Regions from separate parts of the Homo sapiens genome. Here all the other regions are linked to region 1. Evidence: fine-mapped expression QTL. A gene starts in region 1. Each other region holds a variant in brackets. All regions are shown on one strand. Distances are from middle to middle.

Evidence for each region. PIP is the estimated chance that this variant, and not a neighbour inherited with it, causes the effect.
Region 2: its variant is the best candidate, but not a certain one, in a credible set for the expression of ZNF697 in prefrontal cortex (GTEx, PIP 0.53).
Region 3: its variant is the best candidate, but not a certain one, in a credible set for the expression of ZNF697 in prefrontal cortex (ROSMAP, PIP 0.65).

The regions. Positions count from the first base shown.
Region 1 is chr1:119,646,134-119,651,354 of GRCh38, reverse strand. It overlaps ZNF697 (zinc finger protein 697), which reads left to right and starts at 3,089. Exons shown (of 3, transcript NM_001080470.2): 1 at 3,089-3,664. It overlaps LOC124904389 (a long non-coding RNA gene), which reads right to left and starts at 3,039. Exons shown (of 2, transcript XR_007066506.1): 1 at 2,968-3,039; 2 at 2,379-2,631. RefSeq lists enhancers at 3,012-3,081, 2,253-3,093 and silencers at 3,152-3,211, 3,509-3,672.
Region 2 is chr1:119,621,534-119,626,754 of GRCh38, reverse strand. ZNF697 (zinc finger protein 697) reads left to right here. Exons shown (of 3, transcript NM_001080470.2): 2 at 618-880; 3 at 2,639-5,221. The coding sequence starts at 655. The coding sequence ends at 4,050. Among named protein-coding and RNA genes, the nearest start is that of ZNF697, 24 kb to the left of the region's middle. The variant C/G (reference allele first, on the strand shown) is at 2,925.
Region 3 is chr1:119,602,902-119,608,122 of GRCh38, reverse strand. It overlaps the pseudogene HSD3BP5. Among named protein-coding and RNA genes, the nearest start is that of LINC00622, 6.2 kb to the right of the region's middle. RefSeq lists an enhancer at 2,211-3,410. The variant G/A (reference allele first, on the strand shown) is at 2,033.

The DNA.
Region 1 (5,221 bases):
TCATTCACTTGTCTGTCACCTTCCCCTGAGGGCCTCAAGGGCAGGAGAGAGCATATGACAAGGAGGAAAGAAATGCCATTTCCTTCTGGTCTCAGACTCTGCGTATCTTAGCTGGGAATATGCAGTTTGGTCATTTCAATCTCAACATTTTCAACACTAAGTTGCAGGAATTAGTTAATTCAACAAGTATTTGTTGAATAAGAATCCCTTATCCTCTTTCGTTCCTCTTTGTTACCCTTTGTTTCTCTCCAAGACTTTTCTCATCAGCATTTAAACATCCTCAAGGCTCTCTCATCTTAAAAACCGAACAAATAAAACCCCTACAAACAGAAGAATGTCCTTTGATCCGACTTCCTTCTCAGCTACCACCCTGTTCAGAACCAAATTTCACATACTACATGTCTTCTTTACCGTCTGTATTTCCTCCCTCCCAAGCCTTCCTCTGGCCACTCCTGTCCACTCCTGCCACTCACTGGAACAGAAGGCTTATGGAAAGAGCCCCACTTTTACAGAACACGAACCCCAGTATAAGGCAGCATTATAGCCCTTAAACACTGTGAAGTAATTTTGTGACATCTGTCTTTTCAACTGGAGTGTGGGCTTCTTGGGGGTAAGACATAGCTGGTAGTTACTCAGTAAAATATCTTACTGTTGAATGTTACATGTCTACTCCAGACATGGAGACTAGCATGAATAAATGTTAAACAAAACTTTGTTGAAGTAACAAAATAACTGAGATTGGAAACAAAAGGATGGGACAGGTTTGGAATGGCGTGAAATAATGAGTGAAAGTTCAATTATTCTGAGCTCAAGTTAGAAGTGTAGGAGAAGGAGGAGAGTGTGTTGTATTAAAAGCAAGGCAAAAAATAGTTTCAATGGGCAATGTTATATGTTAAATGCTACAAGCAAGTATATCATGTTTTTCAGACTGAACACTATTAGAGGCTACTTGATTTGCAAAACAATAATCAATTCTTTGGGGTGGAGATGGGGAGATTAGTTTCACTGGAATGTTACCAGGTTGAGAATATGAAGGAGCAGTAATTTGTAGGGTCCAGAAAATGCAAGGATCACAGCACAATTAATTTAGGTGGACAGTCAACAGAGTGGGCATACAGCAGGACCTTTAGGGTGGGCATACAACAGGAACTTTTGGGAGGTGAACAGTCCTATCTGCATGCTTCTCATCAATTCTACATTTTAATCCAGGCCATCTTATCCGTGAGGTTAAGGATCTCTAGAGAAAGAGAACTCTAGCATAAACTTTACTTAAATGTAAGCTAAACCCTTCACCCAAATGTTTTAATCATATGGATTTAAAATGTGAAATGACAAGTGGAAGTGACACGTAATTATGACCTTATTTTTTGAAACAGAGTCTCAATCTGTCACCCAGGCTGGAGTGCAATCACGGTTCACTGCAGCCTCAAACTCCCAGTCTCAAACGACCCTTCCACTTAAACGACCGAGTAGCTGGGACTACAGGTACGCGCCACCACACCCGCTATTTATTTTATTTTACTTTTCGTAGAAACAGGGTCTCACTGTGTTGCCCAGGCTGGTCTTGAACTCCTGGGCTCAAGTGACCCTCCCACTTCGGCCTCCCAAAGTGCTGTGATTACAGGCATGAGCCACCAAGCCCAGAGACTTTTCTTTCTTTCTTTCTTTTTTTTTTTTGAGACGGAGTCTCACTTTGTTGCCCAGGCTGGAGTGCACTGACATGATCTCAGCTCACTGCAAGGTCTGCCTCCCAGGTTCATTCCAGTCTCCTGCCTCAGCCTCCCGAGTAGCTGGGACTACAGGTGCCCGCCACCACGCCCGGCTAATTTTTGGTGTTTTTTTTTTTAGTAGAGACGGGGTTTCACCGTATTAGCCAGGATGGTCTCCATCTCCTGACCTCGTAGTACGCCCGCCTCGGCCTCCCAAAGTGCTGGGATTACAGGCGTGAGCCACCGCGCCCGGCCTCCCAGAGACTTTTCTATCTGATTACTTTTCAAACACATTCTAGAGCATCCTAGAACTTGTCCTTTCCTAGTTCAGTTTATTACTTTCTGCTCATGCTCCAGGAGAGAATATAGCTTTTAGTCATTTAGTCTCTATGTGGTCCTTCCTTGATTTTCTAAGGGTCCTGAGTCTGTGGTCCCAGAAATAGACAAAAACATGTGCAGGGCATCATAGACTCTTGCTAGGCTGGAAGTAGAGTTCCTCTCTTGTAGCCAATGTCCTCTTCTCCTCACCCTTCCACTCCCGAAATACACACACTCAATATACAGTGGCCAGCACATCTGTTTTATGGGACCAAGAAGCTGAATCCTAAAGGTTAATGAAGGAAAGATACGCAGAAAGTCCAGCACTTTCCTAATTCAGCAGCACACAGGTTTTCACGTCTAATATTTAATTTACGTAATTTATTTTCAATCTCAATTTAATTGCTTTTCTTGAAAAGATGTTTGGGACAAGGTCAACAATGAGGGAGGAATGTCACCGGGTCGGGATCTGGAAACAATCAGCTCTGTATGGTTTTAAAGATGAAGCGCCAAGATCTTAAGGAACCTGAATTCCTGGTGAGCAATCAAGTTCTTTAATCGGCCCCCAGCAGGATGTCAACGGCGTAAAAGACAAAAAGAAAATCTATTTTAAAAGATAGATTTTGTGTTTTTAGATTAATTTTTAAAAAGCGAACCCACCACAAACTTCCCAGTTTTTAAAGAAAAGGCCTCTCCCACCGCAGAGCCCTCCCGAACCATGGGACAGCTCAGCGGCAGCGTCCCACCGGCTGCCCGCAACCGGTGCCGCGAGCTCGGAGTGCAGCGCTGGGATCTCGCGTGCTCCGGGACAGCGGGCTCCTTGAGCGCCGCGGGGCGGGGCGTGGGGCAAGACCCGCCGGCCGCTCCCTTCCCCACAGCGCTTAGAGAAGCAGCGAGCGCCTTTCCTCCTGTCCCGGAGTCCTAGCCTGGCCCGAGCTACCTCCAGGGCGCCCGCTGCTGCGGTGGCAGGAAGTCCCCGGGAACTACAAATCGAGGCATGCTGGGAACATTCTCCCGCTCCTCCCAGGAAATGTCCTTTGTCCAGCCCTACAGGAAGCCCCAGTGAGGAGTCAGCCGGGCAGCCAGCCAGCGAGCCAGCCAGCCAGCCAGCCAGCCAGCCAGCCAACCAGCCAGCCAGCGGGCCACCCAGCGGCCGCTGCAGCCGCCGCCGCCGCACAAGGGCAGACGCGCTGCGGTGCGGGGCTCGGGCCGGGGCGCTCGGTGCCCTAGCTCCTCGCCGCGCCAGCCGCCTCGCAGGTAGGAGCGTGGCTGTGGCTGGGCTCAACCGCCTCCCGGGGATGGGGCTGATCGGGACCAGACCCGACCGCTGCGGGGATGGGGTGTGTGTTCGAGTGCGGTGGCGGAACGGCTGGGCGAAGTTGTGCCTCGTAAAGTGGACCGTTGTCCGCTCCCCTGGGGCGCAGGGCCCCGGGCTTATGGGGTGCTCTCGCGCCCCCAAAGCCAGGACTGAGCTCCCTCAGGGGTATGTGGCGAGGGGCGGGGAGGAGGAGGCTGAGACTTGAGGGAGGAGACAGCGATGCAAGAGGGAATAGGACCGTCCCGCCGACCACCGAAGGGGGCATCAGAGACCCTCGGAGAAACCAAGCCCAGGGAGGAGCTTGGAAGGCAAGGAGAAGGTGAAGGGCTTTGTGTGCAGCTGTGGACCTTGACGGACTGCGCTCCCCTTGCCTTGTCTGTTCGTGCCTCCAGCCCCACTGGGGCTAAGGGAGGGTGGGGGGCTCCGAGAAGGGCAGGAGAGAGGCGGCAGGTCATCTTGGGTCCTAGTGAATGAAATGTGTGCCTCCCTTTTCCTCTCTTCTCCATTCTAGCCCACTCAAATGAGCGGCTTTGGGGCTGCCATCAGACCGGGCAAATGACACAATAAGGACGGGTGGGTGGAGAGATGGGCAGCAGCTCGCAGCCCAAGAGGGGTGGCCGTCTAGCCCCGGGAGGCATTCCAACCACACGTGTCCATGTAGGTAGGTGGTGGGGTGGTGGGCAAAGCTGGAACCTGCACCTCGCGGGGATGCCGAGGCTCAGGATTGTGCATGGAGGCACGGGTGAGGCGCGTGTTGGGAGGAGTGGGTGAGTAAAAGGTTGAGGGGGAGCAGCGACACAGAGGCGCTGAGTGTACCTTATGGCCAATGTACATTATGGCCATGCATCGGGAACTGACTACCACTTCCTCTGGGACTTTCCACGATTTTCCTTTTTCCTAACCGCCTCCCCCAACCGCCCCCGCCCTGCCTCCCCCACAGGAGTGAATCACCCACCCCTTACTACATGAACCCTGGGCTGAATTGAAGTTGGTGATGTATCCCTGTCCTTGTAGTGGGCATGTTTGTCCTTAACCTGTAGGATGACACCAATACTCCGCATCCCCTACTGCGTTACCCTCCTCCCTCAAGACTGAGCGTCTGGTAAATGCGGTTGGATAATGGCTAGCGAGTTAAATGTCTTTGAGTAGCTGTGGTGGATGAGTGGGCAACTTTGAATACAGTCCAAGTGTGACTGTTGTAACTGAACTCAGCATGCCTAAGGGGCCACACTCACTATCTCTCCTTTCTCCCCTCACCTGATTTTTTGTTGATGCCCCCAACTGTTTACCTTCTTCTCTCAACAAGCCAACATGTGGATATTATTTAATGTGGAATACGTTTGAGGAACCAAATGAACCTTTAAGAATGCCACTTATATGGCCAGGCAGGAGTATGCAAGGCTCATGGTCGAAAGAATGATGCTGTAGGACATGGAGAGAGCCCTGAGCCTGATATAAATGGCTTTCGAGGTGAAACAAAACATTTCTTCCTTAGCTTCTTTGGGAGAGATGAGGCATTTGAACTGAGATAAAGAATGGAATCGAGAAAAAAAACCGAGTTGTTTAGGATGAGGCCATGAGGATAATGAAGTGAAGGGAAGAGGCTCTGTGAATTTAGATGATTTCTAGTTAGAACATATTGGCCGTGTGTGTGTGTGTGTGTGTGTGTGTGTGTGTGTGTGTGTGTTGGAAGTGGGGGTTGTTGTTAAGGGAAAGTTGATGTCAAAAGTTCAGCCATGCCCAACAGAGAATAAGATGGCATCCTATTGAACAAGATCATAAATATGAAGTCAGGCTGCCCTTTACATTACACAAAGGAACACATAGATGGCTTTTCAGAACTACTGGGATAGAGGGGTAAATGGATGCTAGTCAG
Region 2 (5,221 bases), 25 kb after region 1:
CAGGTTGGTGGTGCTGTTGGTGACATGGTCTTAGACAAGAAGTTACTATACTTGATGCTTCTATTATTCTTGTGTCTTGATGTACTTTTCCTCTGGCTCCTTAAATTAGCCAAAATACTTGCACGATAACCAAAATACTTGCAAGGTTGCTGTGGGCTGGAGGCGAGCAAGCTTAATAAGAGTATGAAAAGCATGGAACTTTGAGGCAGCCCAATTGCTTAATCCCCACTCTACTGCTTATAAGTTTATGTAGCCTTGGGCTAGTGGCCTCTTCTTTTTGAGTTTCAAGTTTTCTCAGCTGTAAAAATGGGAACATCTAGTTCACTGTTAAACTATAAAACCACACTAATAGACATCCATATCATAGCCAGAAGATCAAGATTTGGTCCAGTGAGAGTTGGCATCCAACCTCATAGTGAGGTTGTCACTGTTCTTCTGCCACCCAGTCCACCCTCCTTTGCACTCACTTGTTTACTTTAAAATGTGGAGTGAAGTGGAGGTTTGCCATCTGGGGCTTGGAACTCCATACATTTTATTAGAATTGGAAATTAAGGCTGGGCGTGGTGAGGGGATGAGACCGGACTGACGTGACCTTTCTTTGTGTTTTTCTGGAGCAGGGATTCCTGGTCACCTCCCTTGCTCTTTTCTTCCTGGATGAAACAAGAAGATAATCAGGGTGTCTGTGCACACCAGGACTCAGAAGACAAAGGGATGGGTTCTGATTTTGAGGACTCTGAGGACAGGGAAGGGGACCCAGAAGAAAGAGAAATGGGCTCTAATCCACATGACACAAACAAGAGAGAAGGCCATCCGGAGCCGGAGATGGGCTCCAACCCACAGGACTCAAGGCACAGGGAAGCAGTGCCCGACATCTGCACAGGTGAGGAGAAAGCTGGGATTTCTATGCAAGTTGCCAAAGTTACACTTACTTCTAGCTCCTCTAGAATCATAACTAGCGACAGCATTCTCTGTAAGGGAGTTCCATAGAGGGGACCATTAAGCAGGATTCTGTACTGACTTGCCTCTCTTGTGTTAGCCTGAAGACCATCCTTTTTTTCAGCCCAGTCTGAGGTGAGCTGTGAAGAGGCTCACTCACTGGCGCAGTACTTTTTACAGTGTAGAGAATGCTGCTATAAATTAACCCCTGGAACAACACTACAGTAGAATTACCCAGCTAGTAATAGAATCTACCTCACAGTGTTATTGGGAGAGTTAAATGAGTTGCTGCATATAGAGTTACTAAGCACAGTACTGTGCAAATAGGAGGTATCCAGATGTTTACAGTTACGTCCTCATCTCCCTTTGCAGATAAGTCATCTCACTGGTAAGTGACCTGCCTAGGTTCATGTGGCTAATTCCCAAAGTGCCCATGGCCTCTGCTAAATGCCTTACTCTTACTGACCTGAAAGAGTGAATGCTGGGCCTCCACCCACCTCCTTGTTTCTGTCTTTGGGCATTCATTACTTTATCCTGCTCAGTGCATGCTCTGGGGACAGAAATGAGCTAAAATACTTTATGGCCAGGACTGAGAGGTTACATTCCTTCCCCTGTGACACAGTCCCAGACTCCCTGCTGCCCTCCTCCGCAGTGCACAGAAGCATGTGCAGGAGGGCACATGTGAGGCCTTTCACATCTCAGCAACTTCCCTCTGCTTGGGGATACGCAGCCAGAGACCAACAGGTGTGTGTCCTGGATCAGCCTCTAACCTGGGCTCACCAGCTCTAGGCTCTGTAATCTCTTTCTCTATTCCCCACTACTATCCCCCTCCCCCCACCCATAGCAAAGTCCTGAAGGTGAGTTCAGTTTTTTGTTCCATCATAAGCTGTTTCAGACTGACCAAATGTACTTTAAAAATTAGTCCTGAGGGCTGGGCGCAGTGGCTCATGCCTGTAATCCCAGCTCTTTGGGAGCCGAGGTGGGCAGAAAACGAGGTCAGGAGATCGAGACCAGCCCGACCAACATGGTGAAACCCCATGTCTACTAAAAATACAAGTTAGCTGGGCGTGGTGGCATGAGCCTGTAATCCCAGCTACTCAGGAGGCTGAGACAGGAGAATCGCTTGAACCCAGGAGGCGGAGGTTGCAGTGAGCCAAGATTGCGCCACTGCACTCCAGCCTGGACGACAGAGCAAGACTCTGTCTCAAAAATAAAAAGAGAAAAAGAAAAAATTAGTCCAGGGCCTGGTTAGGCCAAGTGGTCTTTCTCAGGTTGGCAGACTGTTCTTGTCTTTTGAGACTAGAATCTTAAAAGGCATTGGTAGCTCTTGGAGTGAGTAAACCTTTTCTCCTGAGATCTTACGTAGTGTCCCACCTGGCACAGACTTGAATATCCTGAACACAGGCAGTCAGGCCTTCAGATGGCTCTGCTAGGCAGTGCCTCGGGTCCAGCTAGGGGGGCCTGGGCCCGAGGAGGCTGCCTGAAGAACTGGTGGGCAGAGGGGGCAATGAGTGCACTCTCCTTTAGGCCTTTCCCTGGAGGATCCAGTTGAGAGAGGCTAAACTCTCAGGGGGTCTTGGAGGGGCAGGGATCCAGAGTGCCTGAGGGAGGGGATCACAGTTTTATTACTGAGGTTTCCTCTGGGCTTATCTTTTGAATGCCAAGTATAGTAATCCCCCACTGCCACCTTTTTCTGTTGCAGAGGGGCAGCTGAGTGAGGAAGAAGGCGTTTCTGTCCGTGGGGAAGAGGATGACCAATCCGGTGTAGCTGACATGGCGATGTTCCCAGGACTGTCTGAGTCTGACAGCATATCCCGGAGCCTCCGGGAGGACGACGACGAGAGTGCTGGGGAGAACCGGCTGGAGGAGGAAGAGGAGCAGCCGGCCCCTCCCGTACTTCCCTGGAGGCGACATCTCTCCCTGGGGAGTCGGCACCGAGGTGACAAGCCCGCCCACCGCCGCTTCCACCGGCTCCACCACCCCATGGC[C/G]GTGGACCTCGGGGAGCTGGATAGCCTGGTGGCCAGCATCATGGACGCGCCCACCATCTGCCCCGACTGCGGGGAGAGCTTCAGTCCTGGCGCCGCCTTCCTGCAGCACCAGCGCATTCACCGCCTGGCTGAGGCCGCTGCCGCCGCCAGCCTGGAGCCCTTCGGCCTGGCGGGCGAGTGCGACGCGATGGTGGGCATGATGGGGGTGGGTGTGGCGGGGGGCTTCGGGGCCGGGCCCCCGCTGGCCCGGCCCCCGCGCGAAAAGCCCTTCCGCTGCGGGGAGTGCGGCAAGGGCTTCAGCCGCAACACCTACCTGACCAACCACCTGCGCCTGCACACGGGCGAGCGGCCCAACCTGTGCGCCGACTGCGGCAAGAGCTTCAGCTGGCGCGCCGACCTGCTCAAGCACCGGCGCCTGCACACGGGCGAGAAGCCCTACCCGTGCCCCGAGTGCGGCGAGGCCTTCAGCCTCAGCTCGCATCTGTTGAGCCACCGGCGCGCGCACGCGGCGGCCAGCGGCGCGGGGGCGGCGGCGCTGCGGCCCTTCGCCTGCGGGGAGTGCGGCAAGGGCTTCGTGCGCCGTTCGCACCTGGCCAACCACCAGCGCATCCACACGGGCGAGAAGCCGCACGGCTGTGGCGAGTGCGGCAAGCGCTTCAGCTGGCGCTCGGACTTGGTGAAGCACCAGCGCGTGCACACGGGCGAGAAGCCCTACATGTGCTCCGAGTGCGGCGAGACCTTCAGCGTCAGCTCGCACCTCTTCACGCACAAGCGCACGCACTCGGGTGAGCGGCCCTACGTGTGCCGCGAGTGCGGGAAGGGCTTCGGGCGTAACTCGCACCTGGTGAACCACCTGCGCGTGCACACCGGCGAGAAGCCCTTCCGCTGTGGCCAGTGCGAGAAGCGCTTCAGCGACTTCTCCACGCTCACGCAGCACCAGCGCACGCACACGGGCGAGAAGCCCTACACGTGCATCGAGTGCGGCAAGAGCTTTATCCAGAGCTCCCACCTGATCCGCCACCGCCGCATCCACACGGGCAACAAGCCGCACAAGTGTGCGGGCTGCGGCAAAGGCTTCCGCTATAAAACGCACCTCGCGCAGCACCAGAAGCTGCACCTGTGTTAGGGGCTGGGTCCGCGGGAGGCTGCCGTCTGGGGAGCCTGTGGGGGGTAGATATCCTGGGACTGACCCAGGGGAAGGAAGTGGGGAAGGGGCGGGAGGGACAATCTGAGAGTGACTGGGGAGCCTTTGGTGTTTGGGGTTTCCTGAAGTGGGAGGAGTGTTGAGTAAGTTGGTCTTTCCCGGTGCTATACTTGCCTCCTCTCCACGGAAGAATTGTTCAGGAGATGCGCTTGGGGTGATGACTTCCTTAAATACACGCTGTAGGGGGTGAAGAGCTTGGAGGACCAGGCACTTTGAGGAAGGGCAGTTCGTGGGCTGGGGTGGGAACAGGATGGCGGGCAATAGACTAGGGTAGGCCGCGATGGCCTGTAGAAGGTTGCGGGGAGAGGGTTTAAATGAGGGTTATGGGGCGAAATAAAACCAAGTATAAGTGATTCTATCTTGGTCCCACCAAGAGTTTGCCCGATCTCCACACATCACCTGTTGTCTCACAAAAAGTAGGGGAACCTTGTCAGTCACATAGGACAGGATATTTAATGTACTTTTCCTTTCTCTGAGCCACAGTTAGCTGCTATTTTGAGGCATCCAAGGGGAAGTGGGCTGAAAAACGCCACACTCATTTCAAGGGGCAATGTCTGGGGTTTAGAAATTCATTTATAACTGGTTCTCTGATGTGGGAAATCCTGATTCTGTCCCGGGTTCTTTGCTACTTCCTTGAAAATACTCTAGCTTCATGCTGGGTCAAGGTGGTTTACCTGGATGACCCCCCTCCCCCGCCCTCGCCCATCCCAGGTGTGTGCCACACCCAGTATTTCTTTCAGGTCTCAACTGTGGTGTTTTAAGTGCAGGGAAAAGGAACAATCACAGCTATGTGTGACTTTCCTTTTCCCACCTCACCTTGATGTAGGTGTTTCAAGTGAACTTTAGACCAACAGTTGCCCAGTGACCTGCTAAAAAGTCAACTAGCTCAGAGTTTTGCTGGCCTTTATGTGAGAAATCCAAGAAAGTGTTCACTTTTTTGGGATGCGAGACTCCTTGGTCTCATTTGCCTTCACTTTGCATTTGTTAGTGACCTCCACTAACCCCCACTTCCATGCATATTGACGAGGGATCTAGTCTAAGTAAGAATGTCTTTTGCCTGCGCGTGGAGGCACAGTAGAAATCTCAAGGCTTT
Region 3 (5,221 bases), 43 kb after region 1:
ATTTTGCCAAGTAAGGATGTTGAAAATTATAATGTGACATCAATACCATTAAAGGCAGATTATTGAAAAACTAAAAAATCAGGAAGATATACTCTGAGAATATGGACAGTCCTGGTTCTTTGGCAAAAAAGGGCAGTAGAAGAATTTACATCACACACACAGACACCCATATACAGTTGTATATAAGCAATATACACTCTTAAATATACTGTTGAATATACATGCAATTGCTGGTATTTTTCTCATTTTGAGTGGACTGGTAAAACTTTGTCACCAGGACCATTCCTGGAGTCATTGAGCGAACAGTGGCTTGTGGGGAGATGCTGGAAACCCACACTCTTTTCCTGATTGTGCATTCCCTGGGAAAGCTGCTTCCAATTCTGGCTGTGACTCTGTTTACCTGGTTATGTAAAGTCGGGGTGATAAACCTTCCTTTAAACCCTGCCCTGGCGTTTCCTGTGGAGCCTGGTGGAGGACTGGGGAGAGGAGTGTGCCCTCTGCTGGTAACACCTGTACTGGGAGGACCTTGCCGCCTCCCCTGAGCTGTGTGGAAGTGTAGCTCATGGAGGTGTTCGGAGTGCCTTCCCTTGAAGAAGGAAGGAATTTCCTAGGCAAAGGATTATTATTTTTTCTTATTTTTTTTTATTCTTGGCCCTGTTTAAAGTCTCTGTGGAATTTGAGTTTCTGGAGAGACAGCCTCATGTTTTCAACAATTAATCTGGTGGCAGAGAAAATGCGGAAGTAGTTTACCTTCAAGGGGGAAATGACCAACATTGTGAAATATTTTCTAAGTCTTGGAGTGATAATGGTTTAGGAAACAGATGCCTCTAACACTTCCCCTGTCATTTTACCTTTCTTGTTGTTGGGAGCTGTGGAGAGTTAATAATTCAAATGAAACACTGGTTACTCTTAACACCCTCCTCACACTGTAGAGGTACTTAAAGGTATGCGTAAGTAGAAACTGGAAAGGTTTTTTTTTTTTGAGATGGTGCTGGAGACCCAAAAGCAATTAGTTGCTTTAGAAAAGGTGTCAGAGTAGACTGAATGTGGAGGGCTAGGCCAGTGGTGGGGTGCTGTGGTGCTGAAGAGACTGGGCTCTGGGAATCAGAGGGTGAGACTGCATGACGAGATTCCTTAAGGGAATGTGTCTGAATTTAAAGTAGTTTGGAAAGCTGCAATTCGGAAAGACCACCAAGACTTTAAGGGATGAGGATTGAATGAAGGTGCATGTTGGACACCTGGCTGGGAATGGCTCTGTAATAGCAGGCCCTGTGGCGAGCTGAAGAGACTGTGTATTCTGGACACTGGGAAACCCTTTTTCTTAAGAAAATATTGTGAGAAAGCATGTGCTGGATAATTCAGTCCTGACAGACCTCTGTGGACCAACTTTACTAATTCTCTCGAGAGAACTTCTTTGAGGTGGGCAGGAGGGCTCTGAATGTTCTTGATATGGGAGTGCTGGGAAGGGAAGAGCATGGTCCCTTTAAATGATATGGGAGGGGGGAAGGGAAGTGCTGGGTGAAGGAGGGTGTGGTCCCTGGCTATGGCTCTACTCCCAGGGACCTAGATGAGGACAAACATTTTCTGCCCAAATGTTGCATTTCCCAAGACCACCCTGGCCTGCCATGCCCCAATTCTCTGCCTATAAAACCCCCAAGACCCTAGCAGGACACACACAAACTGCCTGACAATGAGAGGAGCAGATTGGCAGAAGAAGATAGAAGGGGCTGGATGTCAGGAGGGGCACATCAGTGGAGGCACACATCAGCAGAGGAACACATGGGCAGCTGGACGTTGGGAGGAACACACCGCCCAGCAGAATGATGTGGAGTTTCCCTGGGATGGTCGGAGAAGAGTTGGGCAGTTGAACGGCCAACTCCATGGGAAAACCCTCCCCTTCTGGCATCCCCCAGCTGCTGAGAGCTACCTTCACTCAACAAAACCTGGCACTCATTCTCCAAGCCCAGGTGTGATCTAATTTCTCTGGTAACCAAAACAAGAACCCAGGATACAGAAAGCCCTCTGACCTTCC[G/A]ACAAGGTAGAGGGTCTAATTTAGCTGGTTAAAACAAGCCGCCTGTAGATGTCAAAACTAAAAGAGCAAGACTAAAAGAGCACCATGTAACACACACCCACTGAGGCTTCAGGAGCTGTAAACATTCACCCCAGACACTGCTATGGTGTCGGAGTCCCACAGCCTGCCTGTCTCTATGCTCCCACAGAGGTTTGAGCAGTGAGGCATTGAAGAAGCAAGCCACACCCTCATTGCATGCCTGGTGAGGGGGATGAGGGAATTTTTCCCATTTCATTATCATAAGCCTACGCACAAGGTGACTTGTGTGTAGCACAATGATGACTATGGTGGCACCTGGAAGGTTTGATTCTGTCCCATAGAGGGATATCAAGAGTCTGAAGTTGGAATTTAGTTGACTTTTGATTGAAGCCACTATAGAAAGAGTGTCCACAGCCTTTGGAGTCACACAGGGGTGAGTTTAAAGTCTAACTCTCCTATTTACTTACTTACCTGGGGGGGCCTTGGACAAGTTACTTGCCATCTGTAGCACTGGTTTCCTCATGTAAAAAACTGAAGATAGCAGCTTTGAACTCCCCCAGTTGGTAGTGATCAGCAAAGACACTTGGTCCAGAGCATAGCAGGTGTTCAGTGGAGAGACTTCTTTTCCCTTCCTGTCCTTCTTTGTGATCCTTAATTCCCCACCTTGCTTCATCTCCTCCCCAGGCTACTGTACGTTTCACATTGATGTTCATGATGGACTCTCTGTGAGTGACACCGATGATGTCTATGATGGAGGTGGTGTGGATGATGACCGACATGTCCTGGCAGGCTCTCTTCAGGCATGACTCATCCAGAATGTCTCCTTCCAGCACCGTCAGCTTGGTCTTGTTCTGGAGCTCTGTGTGAACACCGGTCAGGTTATCAGAACGATTTCTGAAACGATTTCTGAAACTGATAAAGATGTTGTTACATAGATGTTCGAGGATGGCTAGAGTCAGGGTGTTGGAGTGGAGGGTGTACATTCCATGGAAGGAACAAGTAAACAGGGACACAGAAGTCAGAATATGTAGCAATTTATTGGGAAAGAGCAAACATCTGTTTCTACCCCATCTCATTTAAGAAAAGTAATCTGAGCAATGAGCTGTCAGGTGTGCTTGGAATATAAGCATTTCTAGAGTCATGGGAGACTCACTAAAATATTTAAAGAGAGTAAGGTGACTGTGGAGAGTTGGGTATAAGAGGGAAAATTTGAATTTAATTCTGCTGGTGATGCGGGATCATGATTTTGGGTCTCCAGCACCATGTCAAAGAAAATCCCTTATTTATATTTGGAATAAGTAGAGAAACAGGCAGAGCATGGTGGCTGACACCTGTAATTCCAGCACTTTGGGAGGCTGAGGTGGGCAGATTGCTTGCACCCAGGAGGTCAAGACCAGCCTGGACAGCCTCGTGAAACCCCGTCTCTACTAAAAACACAAAAATTAGCCAGGCGTAGTGGTGCTTGCCCATAGTCCCAGCTGTTCGGGAGGCTGAAGCAGGAGGATGAATGGGGCCCAGGAGGTGAAGGTGGCAGTGAGCAGAGATCATACCTCTGCACTCCAGCCTTGGTGGCACAGCCAAACCCTGTTAATAAAAAAAGAGAGACAGAGAAACAGAAGCAGAATTGTAATGTAGGAAGTCAACATTGGCTTGAGGATATAAAATGGACTGGTATAGGGGATATGAGAAAGTAAGGTAATTAAGATATTAATCAGAGTATCTGTGCCAAAGTTTCGATGAGGACTGGAAGCAGGGTCCAGCAGTGGAAGCAGAGCAGGGGAGAGATAAAACAGGTTTGAATTTCAGACCTTACCTTGAAGGTCCTGATACCTACTGGATCTGGGCTGAGAGAAAAAGAAGACAAAATCACCCCTATGGTTTCCTCCTTGGGCAATTGGGAGGAGAGTGGAGCCATTACTAGGGAATTGCTGATGGGCTTAAATGAGGAATTTCCATGAAAAACTCATCAGATTTGAAAAGCAGATAGCAATGCTGAAAGTTAGCGACCAATGAACTGATATTCCAGCTGTCTAGCTGAGGGCAGTGGTTAAAACTTTAATGTCTTCACGCTCCTCTGAAATCCACAAGAAGTGATGCTGCCAGTAAAGTTGTCACCTGGAATTAGCCCACGCAATGAACACTGTGGTACATGAAGCTTGGATAAATACACTACACTTGTTTGTGCTTTATAATCTGCATATGACTCACAGCTTGCTTATTTCCTTTTACAGCAATCTCATGAGATAGGTTTTCTGAGTCCCACTTTACTGGTGAGGAAACTGAGGTTCAGAGAGGTTAAGGGACAGATCAAAGGTCGCGTTTCTAGTAGAGGCTCAAACTTGCCCACTCCACCTCCAAGCCTCGTACCCTGCACACCAGGTACAGGACTGGCTGTTTAGAATAAACTTTTCTGAGAAAGAGTAAGAATAAGCCAGTTCAACTGAAATTGGCAACAAAGGCCAAAGAACAGTGAGAGTAAAATTCAGAGCGAAAAATTCAAGACCGGAGCAATTCCTTCCTGGGATACAGGCGGGACCACTTCCTCTCCTAATGCCTCTGCCATGTTTTGTCTACTCCCAGCCCCTTCCTATTGCCAGGCAACTCCAAGAAGGCCATGCTATGGGGGAGGCAGGGAAGAGGCTGCTGGGGAGGACATGGGTGACAGCCTGAGAGTGGAATTTTCTCTGGTTGTATTTCCACCTCTGCACTTCCTGCTCCCTTCCTCTGCTTCCCCTTTGCTGCCAACTTCAGACAGACTGGCTCAAAGGAATTGCCATTTCAAAGCTGAAGAAGTCTAAAGCCAAGAGAAAAGGCTTTTCCTTAATGAGTTCACAGGGATCTAGAGACCAGGAAAGGGGACTTTGTGGATGGAGCCATAGCTCCCTCATTCCCCAAGCTGCTAGGTGAACTACTGCTTAAGAGCACAGATGCCGCACTAGACTGTCTGGGTTCAAATCCAGCTTTGCCATATTCTAACTCTGAGACTTTCAACGAGTTAATTAACCTCTCTATGTCTGTCTCCTAATCTGTGAGAAAGGAGGATAATAATATTAACAATCTCATAGGGTTGCTATGAGTAACAAATGAGTCAGCACATGCAAAACATGTAGCACAGTGCCTGGCACAGAAAGAACACTGAAAGGATTCTCTGTTTTTATCTTTATACAGGCT